Linked DNA regions of Homo sapiens: region 1 is linked to region 2. A link means that fine-mapping ties the variant in region 2 to the expression of a gene that starts in the linked region. Tissue or cell type: monocytes. Region 2 holds a variant in brackets; the other region holds the start of a gene. All regions are shown on one strand. Distances are from middle to middle.

Region 1 (8,181 bases), 32 kb after region 2:
TCAGCTTTCTAAGTAACTGGGATTACAGCTGCATGCCACCACGCCCAGCCCCATTATGAAAAGTTTTCATTGACTTATACCTGTATCGTTTTTTTCTTTCAATAATTTTGGTATGAATGTATCTCTTTTTAAGATGAAGAAAACTTTCCCTAGAAATGTCTTCCCTCCTCCCTGGGCATTCTTCTCAACAGCTGACTTCCCTTTCATATTATTAGCTAAAATTGTACCATATGCCCATTTAAACCAATATTTTGTGAGGGTATGGGCCCACCATGATTGACTTAGACAATCACAATTTATCTCCTGGGACTGAGGTTGGAGCCTAGCACCCTTCAAGCACATGGCCAAGCATATTCAGTGTGGTTACTTGTCAAGCTAACAAGGTAGAAGAGAGAGCCTACTTCTAGAATAGGCTATCAGCGGGATCTCCCACGCCATGCTAAGGAATTTGGACCATATCTCATTGGAATAAGAAACTACTATGGGATCACAGGATGGGCTAAAAAAATAATAAGGAACTTCTGGAAGAAGGTACTTCTGGAATAGGCTGTCAGTGGGATCTGCCACACCATGCTTAGGAATTTGGACTATATCTCGTCAGAATAAGAAACTACTATGGGACCACAAGATGGGCTAAAAAAAAATAAGGAACTAGTGAAGGATTTTAGATCAGGAAGTAGCATGATGAGGTTTCCCAATGGTAACAGAATCAAGGGGCACTCAGGAGGGGCATGGGTCTGGGGGCAGGGCCACCAGTTGGAAGGCTTCATTAGAAGATCTTGGAGAGGATTTTAGGCAGTTGAATTAAGCACCCCTAGTGACTCATTGGATGGAAAGGGAGAAAGAAAGTTAGAAGGAAGATATTCTAGGATGACTCCCATACAGGTTCCTGCTCTGGTGAATCACAGGGTATTTTGTCAAGATGGAGAATATGGATGGAGGAGGTTTGGGTGGATATGATGAGAGTGGAGAGATAATGAGTTTATTTGGGACAATGGGGTGCCTGAAAGACAGGTGAAGAGAGATGGGTAAACTTGGAAGGGAGAGTGTAGACCACATGACACTCCTCCAAATTCCTTTAGAGGGTAGGGTGGGATGGAGTGTGGAGGGAAGGAGAATCCACAAGGGGAAATGAAGCAAAGCAAACAACTAGCACCTAATATGGGACCTGTTGGGCTGATTTTGCTCAGGGCTGGGCATCAAGCACATCTGGAGAAAAATTGCAAATGTAATTGTAAGGCAAGCCTTTAAAGAGCAGTTAAAAACCTGTTTTGAAACATAGGTTTCTATAACTTGTTGCAACATGTTGAGTTACAGCAAATGAAATAGAGAAATACTCTCAGTGCTTTTTAATTTGCCCTGCTGACTGGAAACCTCGGAACTCAGCCCTATGAGCTGTTAACCAGATAAGCATTGCTGGTTTTTGTAAAGAATTATGCTTGACAAATGCTTGAGGGCATATGGATTTATTGAAGGAAGTATTGTCCAAACCAGACTGACAAAGAAAGTTTTACAAAGAAAATATAATGAAAAAATGTTGGGATTAAAATGTAGGTCTTTTCTGTTTTATGATGTAGTTATGAAATGTAAATTAGAGGATGTTTCAATGAACTTTTGAATTATAAGTTAATATAGTTCATAAACCATAGGAATTAAGTACTATTTTAAAAATAGGAATTATACTTCCACTCAAAAACACCTATTTTGTGGAACACTAAAGTTTGAAATATATATGTATAGAGATTAGACTTAGAACTCACAGAAGGTAAATTCAAGAAATTTTTAAAAATTACTCCAAAACATTATTTTAGTTCTTTCCATATCTATTTTGTTCTAGGAACTGAACTGGGTTCTGAAATAATAAAAATAACTGGTATCTGTATAATGTTGTGGTTAATCCCAACTTTATGCAACTATTCTATTCAATGTGGTTTCTGGGGGTCCAGATAAAATATAACACTTGAAGCAGAGTGGGGATTGAGGGACAGAGAAAAAAAAACTGAGAACTGAGAATTGAAGAAGAAAGGCAAATTAGGAAGTTCAACAAGGTTAGGAGAGTAGTGGAGCCAAAAAAACAATAGTCATGAGAACTGAATATAGAAACTGGACAATGGCTAGATCTTATATGACAATTAGAACTCTGACCCACAACCTCTACAGCAACCAGCCGAGAATAATCAGGACTTGGTCAATGACTCAGTTTCCCTGTTTTTTGCCGCCTCCTTTCTTCAACTCAGAACCCACTAAAGACAGCCAAATATGCTACCTACCCCAAACCAATCACCTAAGAGACACTACTTTTGTTAGCCCACCTCCAGCTTTCCCATGCTAATACCCTCAAGTCAGAGTATACATGAAACCTTCCCTTTTTGTTCACTACTAAGCTTTCCTGGCCAGGTGCAGCTGCTCATCCCTGTAATCCCAGCACTTTGGGAGGCTGAGACAGGAAGACTGCTTGAGCCCAGGAGTTCAAGACCAGCCTGGACAACATAGTGAGACTCCATCTCTACAAAGAATTAAAAAAAAATAAGCTGGGCATGGTGGCACGTGCCTGTAGAGCCAGCTACTCAGGAGGTTGAGGTGGGAGGATCGCTTGCTCAGGAGGTCGAGGCTGCAGTGAACCACGATCGCACCACTGCACTCCAGCCTGGATGACAACAGAGTGAGACCCTGTAGGTAATTAAGTAAGTAAGTAGTTTTCCTAATGTCCTGACAGGCTTTGAGTCGGCCAAATGCAAGTGATGGTGACTGACTCCCTTGTCATAGTAAGCTTTGAATAAATAAAGCATTTGGGTGGTCTTCCTCCCCGATCCCCCCCATTCATTCATTTGCTTATTAATTATACATTAGTTGTGTTTTATCTGCCAGGCAGTGGCCAGTATTGGGAATATGTGGAAGCAAATAGTCCCTGCCTTCAAGGATATTCTGTCTAGTGGGACAGACAGACAGACATATACGTATAATAGTAATTCAACGTGCTAAGTGAAACAATAGGCATGTATAAAAAAGGTGTAGTAGGTCAAGTAGGGCTTTTAGGGGAAGGCGACCCTTAAGATGGGTGGTAAGGGATGAGTAGGAGGTGATTTGGCTAAGAGGCTGGGACGGTTATTCAAGGCAGGTGGAGGGGCAGAATGAGCAAAACAGGACGCGTTGCTGGAGCGTGGTAAGGAAGGCAAGTAGCGGCAGAGGACGGCGGTAGGGCGGATCGTGGGGCGCAATGGATGTGCCACGTTGGAAAGAGCTTGGACTTTATGCCGTCCTCCTGGAAATGAGATAACGGCTGGTGTAAGCAAGAAAGAAACACACACACACCCACGCGCGCGCGTCGTTTCCTTTGTGTTACTGTAAGGTCAAGGAGGGCGGCGACACAGAAATTCATGATGACTGGCATAAGCAGACATTCAATGAATGAATGAATGGACATAAGCACTTTGGTGTAAACGTCATTGTCTTCGATTTCTGTTTTCTCACGGGGCAAGACAGTGAGGTCGGGGCATCAGTTTGGGAGGTGATAGGGAAGGTTTAAGGTGAGAGAACTGCCATTCTGGTAGGGAGGGTCAGTGGGCACAAAACCAACAATAGGTTATGGGCAAGGGATGCGCTTCGGTCGCGAACACCCTGAACCCACCTACCGGAGCTACTCTGTCCCAGGAGCGGCCGTGGAGAAAGCAACCAGCCGAGAGTTCGCGCCCCAGGGAGGGAAGCGGGCACAGGGCCGCCCAGCGCCACTCACCTGTGAGCTCTCCGCGGGCCCTGCAGGCGGAGCCTCGGTACGACGCCTTTCCGATTGGGCGCGGCTCAAAGTCCCGGGGCGGGCATCAGAGGCCGAGCGCTCTAGGGGATTGGCCACCCTGGCGGACGGACGTGCTGCTGACCGAGCTGGTTCGCCCCCGGTTCGGCTCGTGGAGAGCCGGCCCCTCCGTGAGTCTTCTGTCAGTCATTGGCTCCCTGCGGTTTCCTTGGGGACGTGGCGCCGCCGCCGGCCGGGCCCTCCTTCCGGCTGGGCAAGGGGCCGCGGGGAGCAGCTCGGGACTGAACCGAGAGGTGCCGAAGGAACCGGCGGGCCGCTTGATCCCGTGAGTGTGGGCGCGAGAGGGCTGTGGGACCCGGAGGGACGGGGAGAGGAAGCGGGACCCACACCCCGCCACCTGGGGACGACCGGTTCCTAGAGGACAGAGCTGGCCCACGAGAACGCCCCGCTCCCAGGATGCCCGGGTAGGGTCCCCTGGGCCTGAGGAACCAGAGCAGACGGAGCGGGAGCCTGGGGAGGAGGTGGGAGCCGTGGAATTCCCGTGCAGGTTTGTCTCGTGGGCTCAGTCGGACAGAAGCCTGAAATCAAATCTTTCTAGGCTGCAGACGTAGGAGATGCCTGGGACAAGGAGGCCACCTTCTCAGGGCAAAAGAAAAAGAAGGTGACAGGCGTTGAGACCACCGAAGGGAACCCATGGCTAGGTAAGGCTGCACACTTTCCCTCCGGCTGGGAGCACGGCAGAGGATGGCAGGCAGGTTGGGGGGCCCTGGGAGGCTGTCCCAAGTGAGGTTTGCCCTGGAGCTGCACTTGGACTTTGTATTCTGGTTAGTTGGATGCAGAGACGATCAAAGTTGTATTATTTCGAGGGCTGATAAATAATAGTTTCTAGCCCATAGACCAGGAGTGGTAGAGTGAGTCGGCTTGCTCAGCTCTGTAAAGTGCAAGGTTGTAACATTGATTCAGATTCGCATCTGAGCAAGGCTAGGTGCCACTTGAGGAGGTTAAACAAAGAAGTTTTTTTGTTTTTTGTTTGCAGTGAACTTTAAAAGCAGACAGACCGAGGTCCTTTTGAATCAATATACAAAGTGAACTTCACAGATGAATACACTTATCCATACATTATAATAACCTGAAGCTTTTAAAAAATATTAATGTGGATCTACATGCACCAATAAGGGAAAGTTATAAAATAAAGTGGGGGAAAGATGCAGAACAGCAGGTATGGTGGACTACCATTTGTGTAAAACCGAGGGAATGGATACGCACACACACACACACACACACACACACACACACACAGAGATATATTACTGTAAATATATTGGTGTATATTTATGCTTGTGTATCCGTAGAATATCCCTGGAAAGATACACAGCAACGGCCAGGTGCAGTAGCTCACGCCTGTAATCCCAGCACTTTGGGAGGCCAAGGCAGGCAGATCACCTGAGGTCAGGAGTTCAGGACCAGCCTGGCCAAGTAGAAACCCGGTCTCTACTAAAAATACGAAAATTAGCCGGGTGTGGTGGCAGTCACCTGTAATCCCAGCTACTGGGGAGGCTGAGGGAGAAGAATCGCTTGAACCCAGGAGGTGGAGGTTGCAGTGAGCTGAGATTGCGCTACTACACTCCAGCCTGGGCAACAGAGCAAGACTCCATCTCAAAAAAAAAAAAAATTACACAGCAACTGGGTAGTAATGTTTGCCTCTGAGAGATTGTGGGGTCAGGGCAAGAATCACTTTTCACTATACAATATATCCTTTTAAACTGATTTGTCTTTTACTATGTGCTTGTATAATCTGGTAAAACATTTTTAAAATCAGTTAAATAAATTTTCTGACCATCCTGTTTCTTGACAGAATTCTTGGTTGGGAATACTGTAGTTGCTCTGATTCTCCAATGTTATGAGGTTGCCCAGGGAGACTGGTGATCTTTTCACTAACATGAGATTAAGTCTTTGAATTGCACTCAAAGTGCAGTTTGGAAAAAGGGCAGATAAGGCTTTTCTGATATATATAGTAGAAGCACCATGAGCTTCTTCTAAAATTAGAGATGACAAGAACATTTAGACTTCTGTTGGCATGGATTTTTGCCTTTATTAGGAGGGTTTTATCCAATTTTAAAACGATATTTAAGCACTCAGTTGTAGAAATGTTTCAGACTTACTAATGTTTGTCTAATTTCAGGATCAGTTTTTCCTACCTCTGCCCAGCCTCCTGGTACTTCACTGTGCCCACAGTGAGTCCATTTCTCCGTCAGCGGGTGGCATTCCTGGGACTCTTCTTCATATCCTGTCTCCTTTTACTTATGTTAATCATAGACTTTCGACATTGGAGTGCTTCATTACCACGAGATAGGCAATACGAAAGGTGAGTCAGCTTTAGATTTTGGCACTCAAGTCATAAATATTTTCATAAGCTGTTTAACACACTACTGACTTTGACCCTTTTGGGTGATACTGTACTTTTATTAGTAAAATTGCATGCCATTTATTACATAAAGAAGATTTTAAGCCCTATTTTGGCAATATGCAGTTTGGTACAGGAATACTGATACTGCATGAAAGGCATCTTTGTGTTTTCTTGTTTTGGTGGGCTGAAACTTATTGTGTGTATAAATGTTTAGGACTGTATTATACCTTTATGAATGGACCCCTTTATCATTATTAAATGATTTTCTTTATCCTTGATTATATACTTTGCTCTGAAATCTACTAGTCTGGTATTAATATAGCTACTCCAACTTTCTTTTGATTAACATTAGCATGACAGATATTTCTTCTATAGTTTTAGTTTTAGCCTATTGGTGTCTTTATATAAGTGGGCTTCTTGTAGTCAGTGTTTGGTTGGGTCTTGTTTTTTTATCCAATCTGACTATCTCTGCAGTTAATTGGGGTGTTCGGGCCATTTATATTTAATCTGATTATTTAGTATGTTTAGTTTTAATCTTGCTATGTGTTTTTCATTTGTCACATTTGTTCTTGTTCTTTTTCCTCTTTTTCCCTCTTCTTTTCAGTTGAGCACAGTTTTTATGTTTCCATTTTATCTCTCATGTTGGCTTATTAGATATAACTTCTTCTTTTTTTAGTGGTTACTTTAAAGTTTATAGTGTCATCTTTAATTATCACAATCTTCCTTCAAGTAATATTACTCCTCTTCACATCTAGAACAAGAACCTAACAACAGTATACTTTCATTCCTCCCTTCCCCTTGGTCTTTCTGCTACTGTCATGTATTTTATTTCTACATGTTATAAGCTCCACAATATATTGTTATTATTTTTGTGTTAGTCAATTGTCTTTTGAAGAGATTTTCAATATAAGAAAAAAAGGCTTATGTATTTAACCATATTGTTGCCTGAAAGGGTCATATAAGCAAAGTGACCCTTGAATGCTGAAGGGACGGAGAAACCAAAGGAGGAGGCAGGCAAATTGTTCGTTGGTATTCATTGATTTATTGAGGGAATTTGCAGACAGAAGCGTGGCCCTGGGTAGCTGCAAGACAGATAGATCTCCATACTGTTACTCCCCAGACCCAGGGCTTATATAGTACAGGGAGATGGTATATGCACCCTGTGCAAGACAATTAAAGACAGCCCTCCAGAACAGGTAAGAATGCTGCATGTGCCATATCCTGTCATTTGTGTGCCAACACCAAGGTTGACATGTTCTTACAGTAGTAAATAAAGCAGGAATCAAGAGGCATTTACGGGACTGAGGCTAGTCAGAAGTCAATGTGGCAGATTAACATCCAAGATGGAGTCACTTTTGTCTATATTTACCATTTCTGGTCTGCTTCATTCCTTTGTGTAGATCCATATTTCCATCTGGATCCATATTTCCATATTTGCTTTTACCTCAAGAACATTCTCTAGCATTTCTAGTAGAGCAAGTATGCGGTGATAAATTCTTTCAACTTTTATATGACTGAAAAAGTCCCTATTTTGCTTTCCTTTTGAAAGAAATGTTCATTGGGTATAGAACTCTAGGTTGATCATTTTTTTTCCTTTCATTACTTTAAAGATGATGCTTCACTGTCTTTTGGCTTGCATTCTTTCTGAGATGTCTGCTGTCCTTTTAATCTTTGTTCTCTCTGTATAGAATGTATCTTTTTCCTCTGAATACTTTTAGAATTTTCTGTTTATCACTGGTTTTAAGCAATTTGATTGTGATGTGCTTTGATGTTGTTTTCTACATGATTTTATTTGTTTTTTTTTTTTTTTGAGACTATCTCGCGCATCTCCCAGGTTGGAGTGCAATGGTGCAATCATAGCCCGCTGCAGCCTCAATCTCCTGGGCTCAAGCTATCTTCCTGCCTCAGCCTCCCGAGTAACTGGGACTACAGGCATATGCCATCATACCTGGCTAATTTTTTTGATTTTTAGTAGAAGTGAGGTCTCGCAGTGTTGCTCAAGCTGGTCTCAAACTGCTGAGCT
Region 2 (8,181 bases):
GTTCTGAATGATAGGCAGGAGCCAGTCATGACAGACTTGGAGAAGGGCATGCCAGCAGAAGGAACAGTAGGTACGACAACCCTAAGGTGAGAACAAGGTTGGTGCATGAGGAACAGAAAGAAGGCCAGTGTGGCTGGAGCATGGTGAGTGAGTGGGGAGGGAATACAACACGAAGTTGGAAAGATAAACAAGGGGTGAATATCCACCTTGATTTCTGACTCAGCGTGTCCATTCCAAGCTCAGCCTTTCCACTCCCCACCCCAACCCATTCCTCCAAAATGTTCGTTTTCCATGAAAGTCTTCATTATTTGCCCAATAGATGAGACTCTAAAGCTGGAGTCTTCCTTGACTGCCCATTCAGAATCATCATCATTCTGAACTGTTTCTTCTGTTTATGCTCTCCTTTTCCTTCGTATTGATATACTTTCCCTGAATCTGATTACATCTGTATTGTCATAACCCCTTGAAAGGCCTGCCTGCCTCGAGGATCCCCTAGCTTCAGCAGTATTTTGATTCTCCTCCTTCCAGGTACACAGTAGGATGTTTTTTCCACCTCCTTGAAGATAGGCATGGCCCTGGGATTTGCTTTGGCCAGTGAAATACGAGGGAAGCACAAGAGTCACACATTTCCTCCTCTGCCACATGACTAGTGATTGTTCAAATGGTGGAGACTCTGTCAGCCTGGGGCCCTGGTGAGAATGACATGAAGCAGAGTTCCCTACTTGTTACCTGCTTGCTCCCAGACAGACTTCAGCATCAGTGAGAAATAAATCTTAGTTGTTTCAAGACACAGAGCTTTTAGGATTATTCCACACCATAGCATAAACTAGCCCAGTACTTCTGTGATGATAAATGATGTTACCTGAAGAATTTGTTAAAATGCAGACTGCAGTTCTGTAGGTCTGGTTGGGGCCTAAGATTCTTCCTTCCCTCTCTCCCTCCCTCCTCCCTCCCTTCCTTCCTTCTCTTTCTTCCTTCCTTTCTTCTCTTTCTTTCTTCCTTTCTCCTTCCTTCCTTTTTTCCTTCCTTCCTGTCTTCTCTTTTTCTTTCTTTCTTCCTTTCTCCTTCCTTCCTTTTTTTCTTCCTTCCTTCTTTCTTTGTTTCTTTCTTTCTTTTTCTTTCTTCTTTCTTTTTTCTCTCTTTCTTTTTCTTTCTCTCTCTCTCTTTCTTTTGTAGAGACAGGGTCTTGCTATCTTGCCCAAAATGGTCTTAGAACTCCTAGGCTCAAGCAATCCTCTTGTCTCAGCTTCCCAAAGTGCTGAGATTACAGGTGTGAGCCACCACGCCTACCTAGATTCTGCATTTTTGACAAGCTCTCAAGTGATGCTGATGCTGCTAGACCTTGGACCACACTTTGAATAGTAAGCACCTAACCTGCACACAAACCCATACACACTGTCGTACATCTCACCAGCACTAAACCTGCCTAAAAAATTATAAAAGTAAGCAGGCCAGGCACGGTGGCTCATGCTTGTAATCCCAGCACTTTGGGAGACCGAGGCAGGTAGATCACTTGAGGTCAGGAGTTTGAGATCAGCCTGGCCAACATGGTGAAACCCTGTCTCTACTAAAAATACAAAAATTAGCCAGGCGTGGTGGCGTGTGCCTGTAATCCCAGCTACTCAGGAGGCTGAGGTGGGAGAATCACTTGAACCCGGGATGCAGAGGTTGCAGTGAGCCAAGATTGGGCCACTGCACTCCAGTCTGGGTGATAGAGTGAGACCCTATCTCAAAGAAAAAAAAGTAGGCAAGGAACTTTATTGGTGATATTCTTCACAAACCCTCAGCAGTTTCCTGCACCTGCAACTCCTCAGGTACTATAGTCATGTTTTCTTGTATTCCAGTGTCTGGAATTTATTCCTTCTGGTGGATTCTTGGTCTTGCTGACTTCAAGAATGAAGCCGCGGACACTCGCGGTGAGTGTTACAGTTCTTAAAGATGGCGTGTCTGGAGTTTGTTCCTTCAGATGTTCAGATGTATCCAGAGTTTCTTCCTTCCAGTGGGTTCGTGGTCTCGCTGACTTCATGATTGAAGCCGCAGACCTTTGCAGTGGGTGTTATAGCTCATAAAGATATTGCCGACCCAAAGAGTGAGCACCAGCAAGATTTATTCTGAAGAGTGAAAGAACAAAGCTTCCACAGCATGGAAGGGGACCTGAGCAGGTTGCTGCTGCTGGCTAGGGTGGCCAGCTTTTATTCCCTTATTTGGCCCTGTTCCCCCACATCCTGCTGATTGGTCCATTTTACAGAGCATTGATTGGTCCATTTTACAGAGTGCTGATTGGTGTGTTTACAATCCTTTAGCTAGACACAGAGCGCAGATTGTTGTGTTTACAATCCTCTAGCTAGACAGAAAAGTTCTCCAAGTCCCCACCTGACCCAGAAGCCCAGCTGGCTTCACCTCTCATTCCCAGTACAATTGTTTTTTCACATTCTCCCGTCTGTCTTGTAATTTTCTACATCTCTCTATGAGACCACTCATTTTTTTTCTTTAGTAATAGAAACCTCAAGTTTCAATTTGGGCATGTGGCTTCCCAGCTAAAGCCCATATATTTTTCCCCAGCTTCCCTGGCAATCAACATTGGAGGTGTGACTAAGTTCTAGTTAGTGGGATGTGAGGGAAAGTGATGTTTGAAACACCTGGGTTGTACCTTTAAAAGAAAAGGATATGTTCTCCTCTTGCTCATTTTCTCCCTTCTCGTCAGAACACAGACCCAGAAGATAATTATTTTTGGCCATGAGGACAAGGCCTGTACTTTAGCTGGTGGCAGAGCAAAAGTTAGAAGAAACCTGTGTCCTTAACACCATGAGGCATCCTATCACCTCAGACCACTTGTGCTCAGACATGAGAAAGCTTGTTAAGCAATTGCTGTTAATGGGAATCTTTGTTACAGCAGGTGAATTTATATCCTAGAGAAGCTGCTCTTCCTTAGAATGCATTTCCCCCTTTGTTCTTATCAAATTTCTCATTATTGAAGGTTCAAAACAGGTCCTACTGCTGCGTCCGGCTTACACTACCCCCTTCTCTGAACTGCCATCATACCTGGGCATGTGATATGAGTGTAGTATAAAATGAGATTGATTCCAGCAGCCACACATGAAAATAAGACTGCTAACCTTACAGCCACTTAAAAAGAAACTGATTCCTAAATGGTGAAGAAACAGAACATAAGAGCTACAGGAATTCAGAGATGGGGTAAGCAGTGAGGACTGAAAGGATCAGGAGATATCATTATTTATCTCATTAGTTTTCAAACTGGAGACTGTGTACAGGAAGACTTTCCAAGGGTTATTTAGGAAACATTGTTTCAAGGGAATTAATTTGCTACTCCTCATCTGGATTAATTCTTTCCTAAAATTCCTCTTCCTGAAAAAGCCGTTGAAACAATTCTTCTTTCCTTTCTCCCCTTTCTCAATCTGTCCTTTTATCTTACAAAAGAAAAGTGTGACCTGACTCACTTCTCATCTTATTATCATTTATTCGCTGGGTGCATAAAAACACCCAGGTTGTCAAACAATCCTTGTGCTGGCAAAGCCTTCAATCAAGATATAACAGTAGACTTCATGTCTTTCCCTGACTTACATATATTCCTGTTAAGGGCAAAAC[A/G]TGGCTTTAAGAATGGAAATTTCAGCCCATGTGGGATATTCTGTGTACATAAATATGGTACAGTGGAGCAGTGTTTTTTTTTTTTTAATTTGTAATTCTCATTTATTGAGGAAAATATAAGTAGAGGGCAGTTTTCAGTCCCACCGTTAGTCCTTCTTCCCCAGATTCCTTATTCCACTTTTGTCTGTCTGATGAGTCACTTTCATTCTTTAACCCTGCCCTTTGTATTTTTTTAAAAAAATAATTAATTTTATGGCCAGATATGGTGGCTCACACCTCCCAGCACTTTGGGAGGCCACAGCAGGCAGATCACTTAAGGCCAGGAGTTCGAGACCAGCCTGGCCAACATAGTGAAACACTGTCTGTACTAAAAATGCAAAAATTAGCCGGGCATGGTGGTGCATGCCTGTAATCCCAGCTACTTGGGAGGCTGAGGCATGAGAATGGCTTGAACCAGGGAGGCAGAGGTTGCAGTGAGCCAAGATCATGCCACCGCACTCCAGCCTAGGCGACAGACCGAGACAATCTCAAAATAAAAATAAAAAAAAAGTCTTTTTTTGGATACATAGTAGGTGTATATTTATAGGGTATCTGAGATGTTTTAATATAGGCCTGCAATGTGAAATAATCACATCATGGAGAATGGGGTATCCATCCCCTCAAGCATTTATCCTTTGAGCTATAAACAATCCAATTACACTCTTTATTTATGTATTTGTTTATTTATTCATCTTGTTTTTTTTTTTTTTGAGACAAGATACTGCTCCGTCACCCAGGCTAGAGTGCAGTAGCGTGATCATGGCTCACTGCAGCTTCAACCCCCCTGGCTCAAGCGATCCTCCTGCTTCTGTCCCCCAAGTAGCTGGGACTATAGTTAAGCACTAATACATCCGGCTAATTTTTTTGAATTTTAGTAGAGACAAGGTCTCATTATGTTGCCCAGACTAGTCTCAAACTCCTGAGCTCAAGTGATCTCCCACTTCAGCCTCCCAAAGTGATGGGATTACAGGCATGAGCTACCGTACCCTGCCCACTTTTAAGTTATTTTAAAATGTACAATTAAGTTATTATTAACTATAGTCACCCTATTTTGCTATCAAACAGTAGGTCTTATTCATTCTTTCAATTCTTTTTTGGACCTATTAACAATTCTTACCCACCTCCCGCAAGTTCCCGCCACCCTTCCCAGCCTCTGGTAACCATCCTTCTACTCTCTATGTCCATGAGTTCAATTGTTTTGATTTTTGATCCCACAAATAAGTGAGAACAGAGCAGTGAGTTTTTTATTTACATCACCGATACCAATCTCTGACTATTATCAAAGAATACATTGCTTCTGGAGGGAGATTCTCCTGAGAGCAAAGTAAAGAGAGCATAATTAAATATTAAAGGTGAGAGAGCCTTATTTCATTTAAGTGGCACATTTATGGCAAGGTTTGTGGCCTATCTCTCTTGGGACTATGATATGTAAGACTTACAATTTTTATTTTTATGCTGGGAAGTAATAAAGGGCAATGATCCCTCTCTGGTCAGAAACAAGAAAAAGCTGAGTAATACTCCTCATTTACTCATGTCTCGACTTGAGTTTCAATTTTATATTTTGCATTACTTCTAGGAGAAGTATGGGGAAAGTACATGTTTACATGTTTTCACAGATCAACATTATGCCATCAAGTAAAAGGAAAATATGTCAAAAACAAATTTGTCTTTTATATTTTCTTGAATGTTTATTCAGGCTTGCAGTAAAAACGTTTTCATTTTCCTTTGTCAAAAGATTATTGGCTATGCCACTTCATACCTATGCAGATGGCTATAAGAAAAAACACAATCATTGGGCGGTTGCAGTGGCTCACGCCTACAATCCCAGCACTTTGGGAGGCTAAGGTGGGTGGATCACCTGAGGTCAGGAGTTCAAGACCAGCCTGGCCAACATGGAGAAACCCTGTCCCTACTAAAAATTAATTAGCCGGGTGTGGTGGCACATGCCTATAATCCCAGCTACTCAGGAGGCTGAGGCAGAAGAATCGTTTGAACCCGGGAGGCAGAGGTTGCAGTGAGCTGAGATCACGCCATTGCACTCTAGCCTGGGCAAAAAGAGCAAAATTCTGACTCAAAAACAAAACAAAAAAACCCACCACAATCATTGTTGAAAATAACAACCATTAGCAAGAAAATAACAACCACTGAGGAAATTGGAACCCTCATACATTGCTGGTGAGAATGTAAAATCATTCAGCCACTATGGAAAACAGTTTGGCAGTTCCTCAAAAAGTTAAACATAGAATTACTATATGACCCAGCAATTCCACTCCTAGGTATATGACTGCTATAATTTGGATGTCTGTCCCCTCCAAATCTCATGATGAAATTTGATCTCCAGTGTTCCAGGTGGGCCTACTGGGAGGTATTTGAGTCATGGGAATAGATCCCTCATGAATAGATTAATGCCCTCTGTGGGGGACAGGTGAGTGAATTCTCATTCTATTAGTTTCAGTGAGAGTTGGTTGTTAAAAAGAGCCTGGCACCTCCTGCCCCATGCCCCTTGCCTCATCTCTTGTCATATTATCTCTGCAGAAGCAGCCTGAGGCCCTCCTCAGAAGCTGGGGAGATGCTGGTTCCCTGCTTCTTGTATAACCTGCACAACTATGAGCCAAAAAACCTCTTTTCTTTATAAATTACCCAACCTCAGGTATTCCTTTATAGCAACACAAGACTAAGACAATTTCCAAAAGAATGGAACACAGGTACTCAAGCAAGTACGTGCATGTTCACAGCAGCACTTTTCACACTAGGCAAAAGGTGGAAACAGTCCAAATGTCCATCAGACAAATAATGGATAAATAGATTGTGTATACATGCAATGAATATAATTCAACCATAGAAAGAAACAAAGAACTGATACATGCTATAATGTGAATGAATCTTGAAAGAAGCCAAATGCAAAAGGTCACATATTATTCCACTTATATGAAATATCCAGAATAGATAGCTCTATAGAGACAGAACACAGATTGGTGGTTACCAGATGCAGCAGGCAGGGGAGAATGAGAGTAACTGCTTAATGGGGATGGGGTTTCCTATCAGGGTGATGAAATGAGTCAGAACTAGGTAGATGTAGTGGTTGTACAACATTGTGAATGTACTAAATGCCACTGAATAGTCCACTTTAAAATGGTTAATTTGGCCCGGCACAGTGGCTCACGCCTGTAATCCCAACCCTTTGGGAGGCCAAGGTGGGTGGATCGCTTGAGCCTAGGAGTTCAAGACCAGCCTGGGCACCATAGGGAAACCCCCATCTCAAAAAAGAAGAGGGAAAAAAAGGGTAGTGAGACTGTAAAGCAGTTTCTTCCACTTCTTTCCTTTCTTTCCTTCCTTTCATACCAGTGGCTCTCAAATCATCCAGGGGAGCTTGGATGCAAACTTTTTCTTTTCTCTTTGAGACGGAGTCCCATTCTATACCCCTGGCTGGAGTGCGGTGGTACAGATCTCAGCTCACTCAAACTCTGCCTCCTGGGTTCAAGCAATTCTCCTGCCTCTGCCTCCTGAGTAGCTGGGATTAACGATGCGCACCACCACCCCCGGCAAATTTTTTAAAAATATTTTTGGTAGACGCGGGGTTTCACCACGTTGGCGAGGCTGGTCTCGAACTCCTGACCTCAAGTGATCCACCCACCTAAGCCTCCCAAAGTGCTGGGATTACAGGCATGAGCCACCATGCCTGGCCCATGCAAACTTTTTGACCCTAACATAGGCCTAAAAATCATCTTCAGAGTGAGGCATGAGAATCTGCATTTTATAAGCAGGTCATTCTGACACAGGTGGTCCCTGGACCACATTTTGAAAAATATTGCTATGATATCACCACACTAGTTCTGAACATCCAATTGGTGCTAGTTTAATAGGCTAAAAGCCATGACTCAGCAGGGGGCAGCAAAGCTTAATAGTGCTAGCCAATTCATTTATTCTCTCAATATGTGCCAGGCCTTAAACGAAGTCCTAGGGATAAAAGATGCATAAATCCACGCATGGTCTCTTCTCTGGTGGAGCTTAAAGTCTTCTGGGGAAGACAGGCATTAACCAAAGATTCATGAATGTAAAATTACAACTGGGATGTGTGAGATGAAGGAAAGGCACATGATATACTAAAATCATATGTTAAGGGGACCTAACTTAGCCTAGGGGGTTATGTCGCACAAGGGAAATGACATTTGAAGTAATATTTTAAAGATAAGAAGAGTTAATTAGGTTACATCAGATGGAGGGATAGTGGAAGGAGTAAGGGAGGTAGTGGAAGGAGTAAGGGAAGGAGTAATTTTCTGGACAAAGAAAACATAATAGCAGGAGTCCTGTGGTCACAGGACAAGAACAGTGTTTGTGAGGCCAGATGAAGCATGTCTGAGTCCTAGGAAGTAAGTAAGGAGCAGTCCTTGAGAGGCTTTGAAAGTCATGTTTCAAGGGATTGGTTTATATTTTAAGAACAATGGGATTCCATTGTGGAATTCTAAGTTGAAGTTGGGCAACATGGTCAATTTTGCATTTTGAAAAGGTCACTGGTTTCTGTGAAAAAAGATTGAG

What was found. PIP is the estimated chance that this variant, and not a neighbour inherited with it, causes the effect.
Region 1: ENTPD7 starts here. The variant in region 2 is the best candidate, but not a certain one, in a credible set for the expression of ENTPD7 in monocytes (Quach 2016, PIP 0.57).

The regions. Positions count from the first base shown.
Region 1 is chr10:99,655,513-99,663,693 of GRCh38, forward strand. It overlaps ENTPD7 (ectonucleoside triphosphate diphosphohydrolase 7), which reads left to right and starts at 3,997. Exons shown (of 13, transcript NM_020354.5): 1 at 3,997-4,076; 2 at 4,350-4,452; 3 at 5,934-6,116. The coding sequence starts at 4,445. It also overlaps a transcript of SLC25A28 not described here. RefSeq lists silencers at 3,676-3,885, 4,006-4,225.
Region 2 is chr10:99,623,104-99,631,284 of GRCh38, forward strand. LOC105378450 (a long non-coding RNA gene) reads left to right here and starts at 1,679. Exons shown (of 5, transcript XR_007062264.1): 1 at 1,679-1,916. It also overlaps a transcript of SLC25A28 not described here. The variant A/G (reference allele first, on the strand shown) is at 3,607.